3 linked regions of the Homo sapiens genome follow. The protein of the gene in region 2 interacts with the protein of the main gene of each other region in a pairwise test. Each region holds a gene or a part of one and is shown on either strand. Other genes may lie near its edges.

Region 1 (3,651 bases), about 59 Mb from region 2:
TCATTCTTTTACTGATTTTTAAAATTTCTTTGGTGACACGATCTCATTCTGTCATCCAGGCTGAAGTGCAGTGATGCTGTTCAGCCTTCTGAGTAGCTGGGTGTGTACCACCATGCCTAGCTAATTTTTTTTTTTTTTTTGTAGTGATGGGGTTTTGCCATGTTGACCAGGCCGGTCTTGAATTCCTGGCTTCAGGTGATCTGCCCACCTCAGCCTCCCAAAGTGTCGGGTTTACCAGTGCAAGCCATTGCACCCATCCCTGGCCTGTTTTACGGATTAAATAAAAGTTCTGAGTTTTACTCTGATTGGACCAGTGAAACCATTTTCTAGTAGTGAGGGAAATGACATGAACTGATAGCTGTAGGCCTGGGTTACATTCAAACCTGTAAATAAGTCACTCTGACAGAGGGGATGGGATTATCCTAATTGGCTTAGGAAACTCGTGATTCATTTCTGAACCAAATGAACCTTGGTACAGGGTAAGTATAGGTATAGCCAAACTGTTACACAATAGGGCTGTGATGCATTTATGTAGGGAATGTAATCACAGTGCCTTCCATGGCAAGGATGATTAAGCATTAGAAAAATCTTTCAGTGTGGTTTACCACATAAAGTGGTGAAGAGTGAAAAAGTATCAGTAGATAAAGAACAAGCACTGGATAAAATTTAAAATTTTACATGTATATGCACATGTAAAGTTCTTGGAAAACTTAGAAGGAAACTTGCTTAATCAAATATCTATCAAAGTCTTATGTTTTATGCTGAAATTTAAAATGCGTTACCATCAAGATATATTGAAACAGGAGCAGTTAGGGCATGATAGCTATCACCATAGCTCTTTGACGTTGTACTAAAGAATCCAGCCAATGCAAGATGACAGGAAAAAGAAATGAAGTGTGATTAGAAAAAAAGTGAAAAAATTCTCATGATTGGTAAAGTATTTAAGAAAGTGAATGGATAAGCTATTAGATTTAAAGACTTTTTGCCAGGCATGGTGGCTCATGCCTGTAATCCCAGCAATTTGGGAGGGTGAGGCGGGCAGATCACTTGAAGTCAGGAGTTTGAGACCAGCCTGGCCAACATGGCAAAACCCCGTCTCTATTAAAAATACAAAAATGGCTGGGCGGGGTGGCTCAAGCCTGTAATCCCACCACTTTGGGAGGCCAAGATGGGCAGGTCACGAGATCAGGAGTTCCAGACCAGCCTGGCTAATATAGTGAAACCCCGTCTCTACTAAAAATACAAAAATTAACTGGGTGTGGCAGCACATGCCTGTAGTCCCAGCTACTCAGGAGGCTGAGGCGAGAGAATCGCTTGAACCTGGGAGGCAGAGGTTGCAGTGAGCCAAGACTGCACCATTGCACTCCAGCCTGCGTGACAGTGAGACTCTGTCTAAAAAAAAAAAAAAAAAAAAAAAAAAAAATTAGCTGGGCAGGGTGGTGAACACTTGAAATTCCAGCTGCTCAGGAGGCTGAGACAGAAAAGTCACTTGAACCCAGGAGGTGGAGGTTGCAATGAACTGAGATCATGCCACTGCACTCCAACCTGGGCAACAGAGTGAGACTCCATCTCAAAAAAAAAAAAAAAAAAAAGATTTAACGACTTTTAGGAAGGTTAGCACCAACAGTAGAAAATAAAATTGCCATTCATAATACCAACAAAAATAATAGGTAACAAGGAAGAAACAAAAATTTATGTAAAATTTTAATAAAATTATAAAATGTTATTGAAGGAAATGAACACCTGAATGAATGGGGAGAGATGCCATGTTGATTGATAGGAGTCAACCTTGAAAAGATGTAACTTATCTCCAAATTAGTCTGTAACTTGGGTGGGAATTTCAAATTTTCAGTTATTTTTATAAACATTCTGAAATGTATCTGGACAAGTAGAGGTACACAGGTAGCTAAGAAAATTTTTAAAAAGAATATTATGTATTAAGATAGACTACAGAGTTACAGTGATTAAACCAATGTGATATTGGCTTGTTATAGAAGTGAATCACTAGAACAGGGTACCAGAAACAAACCTATGTATATAAAGGATTTCAGTATATGACAGAATTCGCTTCACATACCACTGGGGGAAATGGTAACTATGCAGTAAATAGTGTTGGGACAGTTGCATCTTTGAGTGCAATAAAATAAAATTAGGTTCCTTAGTTGTACATAAAAATTATTTTTAGTGAATCAGATATTTAAAGTGAGAAATAAGCCTGTAAGAAGAAAACAATGGAGCATATTTTTGTGATTGTCAAGGTAGGAAAAGCCAAATCACAAAAGGAAAAGATAGTTGCATATCATTATAGAAAAATTTAAGTCTGGCCTGGGCATGGTGGCTCACACCTGTAATCCCAGCACTTTGGGAGGCCAAGGTGGGTGGATTACTTGAGGTCAGGAGTTCAAGACCAGCCTGGCCAACATGGTGACACCCGGTGTCTACTAAAATACAAAAATTAGCCGGGCATGGTGGTTCATGCCTGTAATCCCAGCTGAGAATCTGGGCAGGAGAATGGCTTGAACCCAGGAGGCGGAGGTTGCAGTGAGCCAAGATTACACCACTGCACTCCAGCCTAGGCAGCAGAGTGAGACTCCATCTCAAAAAAAAATTTTAAATCTGAGTGCAAAAGACCATTTAGGTTATCTATTTCTTCTTGAGTGTACTTTGGTGTTTTCATCTTTCAAGTAATTGGTTAATTTCACCTAAGTATGGGGATAGAGTTGTTTCTCTGTTATAGAGTAATATTCTCTTATTATCCTTTTAATGTCTGCAGGATGTGTATTAATATCCTCTCATTCCTGATATTGACATGTATTACATATACATACATTGAAAAACCTACCAGTCTAATAATTTTGCTTTCAACAGCCATACGTATATTTCCTTGAGCACTTTAAAAATGCTTTTCCAGTGTCTTCTTGTCTCCATTGTTTCTGATAACAAATCTGAAGGGATTTGAATCATTGTTCTCCTATTTGTAATATGTTATTTTTCTTTGCTTTCAGTACTTTTATTTCATTGTTTTCAGCAGTTTGATTATCTGTGTGTGGTTTTCTTTGAGTTTATCTTTTTTTTTTGGATCACTGAGATTCTTGAATCTGTAAATTTATATCTTTAACCAAATTTGGGAGTTTTCACCCATTATTTCTTGGTAATTGTTTTGTTTCTACACTAATCTCTTTCTTTTCTGGGACTCAGTAGACAAAAATGGTAGACATTTCCATACCGTTCTCACAATTCCTTAGGCTCTTTTCATTGTTTTCCCTGTGTTCAAGCTCACTGACTTTTTACTTTGTTAATCTCCATTCTGCTATTGAGATCGTCTGATGAATTTTTAATTTTAGATATTGTATTTTTCTGTTTTTAAATTTACATTGTTTTTTAAAGTTTTTTTGTTTCTCTGTGGATAGTTTTGATATTTTTATTCATTACAGGTGTTTTCACGTTTATTTTATGGATTATTTATGGAGCAACTGGGACATCTTGGGATTGGTCTGTGGATTATTTTTTCACTTGAGAATAGATCACCCTTTTATGTTTGTTGAGTAATTGGCTTGTTCCCAGAGTTTTCGAATCTTATGTTTTGAGACTATTTCTTGTTAAAATCCTCTGAAGAATGTTGACTTTTTTTTTTTTTTTTTTTTTAAAGCA
Region 2 (3,651 bases):
TAAGGGTAATGGAGTCTCACCCTCTTAGCAGGCAAAAGTCAGAAGCACATTTGCTCTGGAAGATGATCTGAATTTTCTCAAAGAGGAAAACCAGCTCCCAAGATTTTTATTCTGTTATGCAGTAAAAGCAAGTCAAGGATTCAGATGGCATTTCTTCAAAATCAAGGGTTTTATCAGAAAAAATACAAGAATTGAATGCCATATGACATCTATGTCAAATGGTCTCCGAAGGACCTCACTACCTTGGCCTTCATCAGGACCAGGTGAGTGGGAACTGAGAGGCAGGACTGTGGCAGCCTGTGGCGATGAGAAGGCTGTGTTAGTCTGGAAATGCATGGCAGCTCCTTTAGGTACCAGTGTTTCTGATCTCCCCATTATTTTCCTCATGCCATTTCCTAAGAAAAAGCTCACAGTAAGAAAAACTTCCTTCAGGTAAGAGTATATTTTATAATTGACCAATGCTTAATTCTCTGCAGTGATGGAAGGGTGGTGCAATTCAGGCCACAATAAAATCAGGAGTGTTCCATTCATCTCTGCAAAGAACACTGGGCTATACATTTGTGCCAGATGCACCTTCAGTTTGTTTAAATTGTTATAAAGTTAACTTGCATGGGTCAACCAACATTGCTGGGGGCAGTTTAGAAGTGCTGGAGAAATATAAGCTCAGGGGAAGGAAACTAACTTGGGATGAAAAGCTTGCTGCAAATGATAGAGCAGATAATTTACATATAGACAGTGGAAAATGTGTTGTTTATTTGGTGATTATACATAATGTCTTTTCTCTTAACAATACAGGGAGAAGGAGAAGGAGATTAGGGAACATCAAGAATTAGGAGAAAGACGATGGCTGTGTAGTTTTCTTGCTTTTTATTTTTTTGAGATAGGGTCTTACTCTGTTGCCCAGGCTGGAGTGCAGTGGCCTGATCACAGCTCACTGCAGTCTTGACCTCCCAGGCTCAATCCATCCTCCCACCTCCTCCTCCCACTACAAGCATGTGCAACCACATCCAGCTATTTTTTTCTATTTTTTGGTAGAGATGGGGCCTTACTTTGTTGTCCAGACTGGTCTTGAACTCCCGGGCACAAGTGATCCTCTTGCCTCAGCCTCCCAAAGTGCTGGGATTACAGGTGTGAGCCACCATGCCCAGCCTATGTAGTCTTCTTTATACTATACAGCAAAATGAAATGTCATAGACTACTGGCTAAGGATTCCAGGGAGCAGATGGCTTTCTCAAATGAAGATCAAATATGTACAGAACTAAAATCTGGTCTACCAAGTCACAGAAGTGAACTGAACTCAATGTCTGCCTTACTTACCTCATCAAGGGGATAAGCCCGGAGAGGAAAAAAATGGTCTTTTCTAGGTTCAGCGGACCTCCTCCTTGGAACATCCAGCTGGCTCTCATCCTAGGCCTGCCCTCTGCATATATAATCACTTATCTTGGAGGCCACAATGACTACTGTGACATCTCATCTATATAGAGCTTTACATAAGCAAAGACAACACATTAAACAATATTTATTTATAGTGGTTGGGAGAACTACTTTGGAGCAGATAAACAATTCTTAATTATTGATCAATAAATAATGATCTTCATCCAGTTTTAGTTGTTACAGAATGACAGTGGTTAAAAAAATGTTTCAAATGGAACTAAGGCTAGATTAGAAAAGCCAAAACAATTTGTTTACTAAGAAGTTAGCATGGGTGGAATCTAGCAGAAATTGTGAAAGTCTAGCTTGGTGCTCTATAGAGATTTTTCTTAAAAGCCATTTTACCAGGACCTGTTTGAGGTCAGGAAGGTGCAGCACTGGTCCATTCACAGAAGGCTAGATAGACTCTGGCGGGAGCAGGGAGACAAAGTCGGCTTCCTGGATGAGTGACAGCAACTTCCAATGCACCCCTGGCCCTGCTCAGCCTTGCTCTGCCACCCCTGTTAATAAGCTGACTCTTTCCCAATCACCATTACGATGTGGAGGACAGAGCTTGGTACACATCCTGGAATATCTGCCAACTGTTCTTCTAGAAATTCACCTCTTCTGGGTGTTCAGAATATATAATGATGCCCTTAGGGTAATAAACACATGCGTGCATACGGTACGTAGGTGTAAAGGAGTTGTAGTGGATAAAAATGGGGGTTCTACGCATTTGGGTTTGAATCAGACTCTGGCACTTACTGGTCCTATAATCTTGGGCAAGCCACTTAACCTCTCTAACCCCAGCTTCCTCATCTGCAAAGTGAAGGTAATAATAGTGCCTCCTAAAGAGACTAAATGAGTTCATGTTACACACTGAGAACAGTAAGTGCCTCACACTTTGTGCTATTATGTTGGTAGACTTGCTAATGTTACCTTCAAACCAAAAGCTTAATCTTCAAGATAGGAAACATCGCTCCCATGGTTCCAATAATGTGGTTTGCTGCAGCCGTCCTCTACTAATTTTTATTTTAGATCCACACTCCCTCTTTCCATGACAGCTGGAATTCCTTTCGGTTTTCTAAATCTTCTATACTAGAAAGTCAGTAGCCTTTTGTGGAAACTATGTCTCCTCTCTTTAATGTTTTTAAGACCCCATAAGAGAAAAATATGAATAGATATATTTATGAGTGAAAGAATAACTATATTTAGGCTAGGGCTGTCAAGAAGACCTTTCTCCAATGATGTAAATGTCCTATATCTCTGCTGTCCAGCGTTGTGGCCACTAGGCACCTATGGCTATGGAGCTCTGAAATGTAGCTAGTGGGACTGAGAAAATGAAGGTTACATTTTATTTAGTTTTAATTAATTTAAATAGCTACATGTGATCAGTAGCATAGTCGCCGCATTGGACAGTGCAGGTCTAGAATTCACAAGTTTGTCAGAGCTTCAACCTTCCTCTCCGATAGTCTGTAGACTTGGAGTGGTTATGAGTACAGACTCTGGGGACACACATAGAGACACAGCTCTGCCACTGGCCAGCTCTCAAGTCTCTTCAATGCTTCAGACCTCTGTTTTCTCATATGTAAACTGGGGATGATAACTGCTACTATTTCATAGGGTTGTTGTGAGGATTAAATTAGTTAATAAATGCTTAGGAAAGCAGCTGGCACATAGTGTACATTTATATAGTGCTTACTATTCTTCAAGTTTTTGCTCCTGAAATTAACTTTTTAAACTGTCTCTTGATATATACCCTTTCTCAATTTCCATGTTACTTTTCCTCTGCCTGAAACTGATCAGCAGTGTTCCCAACCTCTCTCCTTCCTGCTTCTTCTCCCATATGCCTTAGTATTTTTAGGCATCTCTTTGTACCTGTTTCTGGAATGCATCAAGACTAAATCTGACACTGAATATAATCTCCCTGATCACAGGCTTCAGATTTTCCAAGTTAGCAGCATTTCTTATACCTTATATTCTACACGTTCCAATAAATTAAAACAATGAAAAAAGCATGGGGTTTAAAGTCAGAAGACCTGGGACATACCACCTACTGTGCCTGACTTTCAGCTTTCACAACTGTAAAATGGGAATAATTACACTATTTCGTGAGATTGTTGTGATTCATGATCAGGTGGGATAACGCATATGAAAGCACTTCGTAAACTGAAGCATTGTTATTTTTGTTCCCAATCAAATTCAAAGAGGATGAAAAAGGCAGGCCAAGGTAACCCGAGT
Region 3 (4,316 bases), on a different chromosome or scaffold from region 2:
CGGGAGGCTGAGCCAGGCAGGAGAATTGTTTGAACCCGGGAGGTGAAGGTTGCAGTGAACTGAGATCGCGCCACTACACTCCAGCCTGGGCGACAGAGGGAGACTCTGTCTCAAAATAATAATAATGATAATAACTTAATTACCTTGTTTCAAGACCCAAACACCTCTCTCGCCCTGTCAAACATCTATTCTCCTGCATACCTTTTTGGTATTAATTTCTGTAAGAGTTTATATAAATACTGTGTAGTTAAAGATAAGGGAATTGAGGTTGGAATTGCCCACAGGAACCTGTAAAATGACCTGAAAAGTAATAACTAACATTGAGTGTTTACTATATGCCAGGTACTGTTCTAAGTATTCTACATATATTAACTCATTTAATTCTTACAACCCAAGAGGTAGGGTGTGTTGTTATTTATCCCCATTTTACAGATGAGGAAACACGCACAGACAGTTTCTAAGTGCCTGGCCAAAGGTTACGCAGCTAGGAAGTGGCAATCTGACTGTGGCAGTAAGTCTATAGAATCTAAGTACACACAAACTTAAATCATTCTGTTGAGTTGATTGGAGGGTTTTCTTTTTTGTTCCTACTGTTTCTTTCTCCTGGGGAAGAGAAGGATTATGCCTTTCCCTACCCCCGTGAGAAGGACGGTTTGTCAAAGCACTTACTAGATAATAAAGTTGTTGATCAGCCTACCCCCAAGTGAAAAGGTGGAGGCTCCTTCCACTTATATTTATGTAAATGAGACTCTTCCTCTTGCCTGCCGTTTTTTTGCAAGCCCTAGATCAGGCGTGTACTCTGAAAATGCTGAGCACACCCCTCTGTGCACTTGTGGCAATGCCACATACAGGAATGCGCTGGCCTGAGGCCGCTATTTCCACACTGAATTTCTGGTATATTCACACCCCTTTAGGAGGAGATATGGAACAGGACATGGGTACTAGAGGACACACAAACGTGTGATGATTTGCTGGGTGTTGCTGTGTCCAACCCGCGGACTCTGCGGCCGGGCTAAATAAGCTCAATATGTGGCTCCTTTGGGTGTTCCCGAGCGTGACGCAATAACAAAACAATGGCGTCATCGTGAGGTCACTGCAGAACAGGGGGAAGGGGGTGGGGAAGGGCCCTCCTTCTACGGGCGGAGCCCTTTTTGCCCAGCTCTCAGAGCGGCCCCCTACCCGCCCCTCCCGCCGTCTCCCCTTCACCTAAGTTCCTCCAGAGCCGTCTCCCTGGGAATTAGCCCTCTCCTAACTCCGACCACAGAAAGCTCAGCTTTCAACCTAAGCTTTTGGAGTTTAGGCTGTAGTCCCTAAGAGAGTCTCTAGAAACCCTGCCCCTAGTTTTAAGTTTCGCCCAATGAAAAAACAAAAGGAGAGGGACAGAAGGCGGGTCGGTGACGTAATGCGGGTTGATTGGCATGCAGGCCTTGGACGTCCAGGATTAGCCACGCATTTCGCCAATCCAGAGGCAGGGGAGGGACGGTGCAGGCGCAGAGTATTGGGTTTGGCTGGCCTCGATTTAAAGAGACAGAAGCTGTCGGGGTCCTGGAAGACGGTCCCCAATACCCTCCCCCCAAGTCCTTGGGACCACTTGGGTCCCCAGAGCTGGGGAGATGGTTTGTGGCGGCTTTGCCTGCTCCAAGAATGCGCTTTGCGCTCTCAACGTGGTCTACATGGTGAGGTTTTGGAGGTGGGGGAAGCTTCAAGGCGGAAAGGCCCCGTGGGGAGAATCTCTAGGGTACTTCCGGTGGGGAGAGGGGTGTATGGGGGTTCCGGGAAGATTCCCAGGAACTTCCGGCGACGAGGGAATTCCTGGGGACTTCCGTGGGAGAGAGGAGACTTCCGGTTGATTAAGGGGGTTTGTCTGAGGGTGGGGGAATGAACTGAAGGCCGTGGGCGTAAGTTCCATACCTCCTTCCTGTGAACCTCAGTTTCTTCCAAACTGGAAGTGATAGGATGATCCTGAGGGTTCATCTTTTGCATTCATACTACCATCCCTGCCACCCCCTCCCCGCCATCCTAGCCATTCTAACCTTTGGGAGTGCCTAGGGATGCTCCCGGTGCGGATAGCACCATCCCCAGCTCCCATTCACACACTATTCCATTATTCCTTCCCCCTGCCCCGCTCCCAAGTCCTCTTGTATGGCCTTGGGCTGTGCCGCATGCTAGAATTGTTGAGATGTATCCTGCTCTTTCTTCGTAGCTGGTGAGCTTGTTGCTCATTGGAGTGGCTGCTTGGGGCAAGGGCCTGGGTCTGGTGTCCAGCATCCACATCATCGGCGGAGTCATTGCTGTGGGAGTCTTCCTTCTCCTTATTGCAGTGGCTGGACTGGTGGGTGCTGTCAACCACCACCAAGTCCTGCTGTTCTTTGTATCCTGACCTGAAGTGATGGGGGCAACCGGGGGCTTGGGAGGGCTGTCATCTAAGGAAGATGTTAGAAGGGTAGGGGACCTCAGGGATCTTGGACACGTCTCCTTGCCCTGCCCTGTCCCATAATCTACGAAACAAGAGCTGATTTTATTGCTTTCAATTTGACATGGTGGTGTAAGTTCTATGAACAGATGAGACCAGACAGTTATTATAGATGAAACATAAAGGAATCTAGGACTTTTTTCCATAACCTTTCCTCTCAGTACATGATCATCCTTGGTTTGGTCTTCATCTTCCAATTTGTAATCTCTTGCTCATGTCTGGCTATTAACCGAAGCAAACAGGTAAGACAGTACCCTTTCAAGTACTTACTTGCTTTTTAAAATTTTCCTCTTAACCTCGAACTCCTTCCTTAGTCTGGCCCCAACTACCCAAAGATCATCCTTAGGTGCACTGCTTCTGGCCTCTTGGGCTATTTGCTTCCTCTGGGATGTCTGGTTAATTTTCCATGAGGATGATCTAGAGAACCTCAAAAGGTAGATATTTATCGTGTCTATAATTGTTGCACACCGTTATGCTTCTGTTTGACTTCCTTTGCTGGGCTAGGGAAATTGAGGCACTTGAACTGATAACAGGATGTAGGGAGACTTAATTTCCCTCTACCCATATCTTTCAGACAGATGTCATCAATGCTTCTTGGTGGGTCATGAGCAACAAGACTCGGGATGAACTGGAAAGAAGTTTTGATTGTTGTGGCTTATTCAACCTCACAACCCTGTATCAACAAGATTATGATTTCTGCACTGCAGTGAGTGTGTTGGGGGTGGTGCAGCAGCCAGGGGAGGTAGGAAACTGGGTAAGGACAATGCCCAAGTTGGCAAATTTAGTTTGAATGTCATTGTTTCTCTCTCTACAAGCCCTCTTGTATTGGGGCTGTGTTGGTGGGAGGTGGGGGTGGATAGAGGCTGGGGAATTAGCCAAGTAGGATTTTAGTTTGTAGGACACTGGTCAGATAACAGTAAAGTTTCTAGGGACATTCGGCATAGGTATTAGTCACTAGCAACTTTACATTCACAACTTTGCATTCTTCACGTTTTATCCTCAGATCTGCAAGAGCCAGAGCCCCACATGCCAGATGTGTGGAGAAAAGTTTCTTAAGCATTCAGACGAAGCCCTGAAAATCCTAGGGGGTGTTGGACTCTTCTTTAGCTTTACAGAGGTAACATTCTCCAGTTCCCTCACACACATCCTTTTTGAGACTGAGAATTAATTGATACTTATCTCTCTCCCTTTGTTCCTACAGATCCTTGGTGTTTGGCTAGCAATGAGATTTCGGAATCAGAAGGATCCTAGAGCCAACCCCAGTGCCTTTCTATGAGACTTTGGATCCTTCTGACTTTTCTTCTGCTCTCTCTAAGCTTTCTCTTCCTCCCTTAGGGAATATCTAGGGTCTGTAACCGTTTTGGTTTGAGAAAAAGGAAAGGCCCCTTGTCACATCCTCTAAAATTGATGGAATAGCAAGACTTTATGCCTTGACATATTTTAGTGGGAGCCAGACTATAAGGAATAAAAGGAAAAACTTTCTTCCTCTCTCTCCAAGAGGATATGGGAAGCTTCTGTGAGTGCATAGGATGGGGGCTGGAGTCATTCTTAGCTGTTTCCCTTCCTCTGTCCATATACTGGATCACCTCAACATACCCTGGTGTGGCTCTAAGGGTAAATCAGGGATAGGGCCAAGGAGAAAACAACCAAGAACTCTTTCCTGTAATAAGCAGGATCCAGTTTGAGAAAGTTTAGCGAATATAAAAGTAAAAGCCATTTAAAAATCTATATTCTTTTTTTTTTTTTGACACAGAGTCTTGCTCTGTTGCCCAGGCTGGAGTGCAATGGCATGATCTCGGCTCACCGCAACCTCTGCCTCCCGGGTTCAAGCGATCCTCCTGCC

What was found.
Region 1: the proteins of TSPAN2 (region 2) and RABGAP1L interact in a two-hybrid assay, tested with the Homo sapiens proteins (one large-scale study listed by BioGRID and IntAct).
Region 3: the proteins of TSPAN2 (region 2) and TSPAN31 interact in binary tests that used the Homo sapiens proteins (3 or more experiments, as listed by UniProt).

What each region holds. Positions count from the first base shown.
Region 1 is NC_000001.11:174,221,871-174,225,521, forward strand, and holds part of RABGAP1L (rab GTPase-activating protein 1-like), read left to right. Parts: intron 1-3,651. UniProt on the Homo sapiens protein: GTP-hydrolysis activating protein (GAP) for small GTPase RAB22A, converting active RAB22A-GTP to the inactive form RAB22A-GDP. Plays a role in endocytosis and intracellular protein transport.
Region 2 is NC_000001.11:115,079,425-115,083,075, forward strand, and holds part of TSPAN2 (tetraspanin-2), read right to left. Parts: intron 1-3,651. UniProt on the Homo sapiens protein: May play a role in signalling in oligodendrocytes in the early stages of their terminal differentiation into myelin-forming glia and may also function in stabilizing the mature sheath.
Region 3 is NC_000012.12:57,743,542-57,747,857, forward strand, and holds the start of TSPAN31 (tetraspanin-31), read left to right. Parts: upstream 1-1,497; 5' UTR 1,498-1,613; coding exon 1,614-1,676; exon of another isoform or gene 1,677-1,690; intron 1,691-1,881; exon of another isoform or gene 1,882-1,898; intron 1,899-2,203; coding exon 2,204-2,371; intron 2,372-2,634; coding exon 2,635-2,715; intron 2,716-3,047; coding exon 3,048-3,179; intron 3,180-3,476; coding exon 3,477-3,590; intron 3,591-3,674; coding exon 3,675-3,749; 3' UTR 3,750-4,316.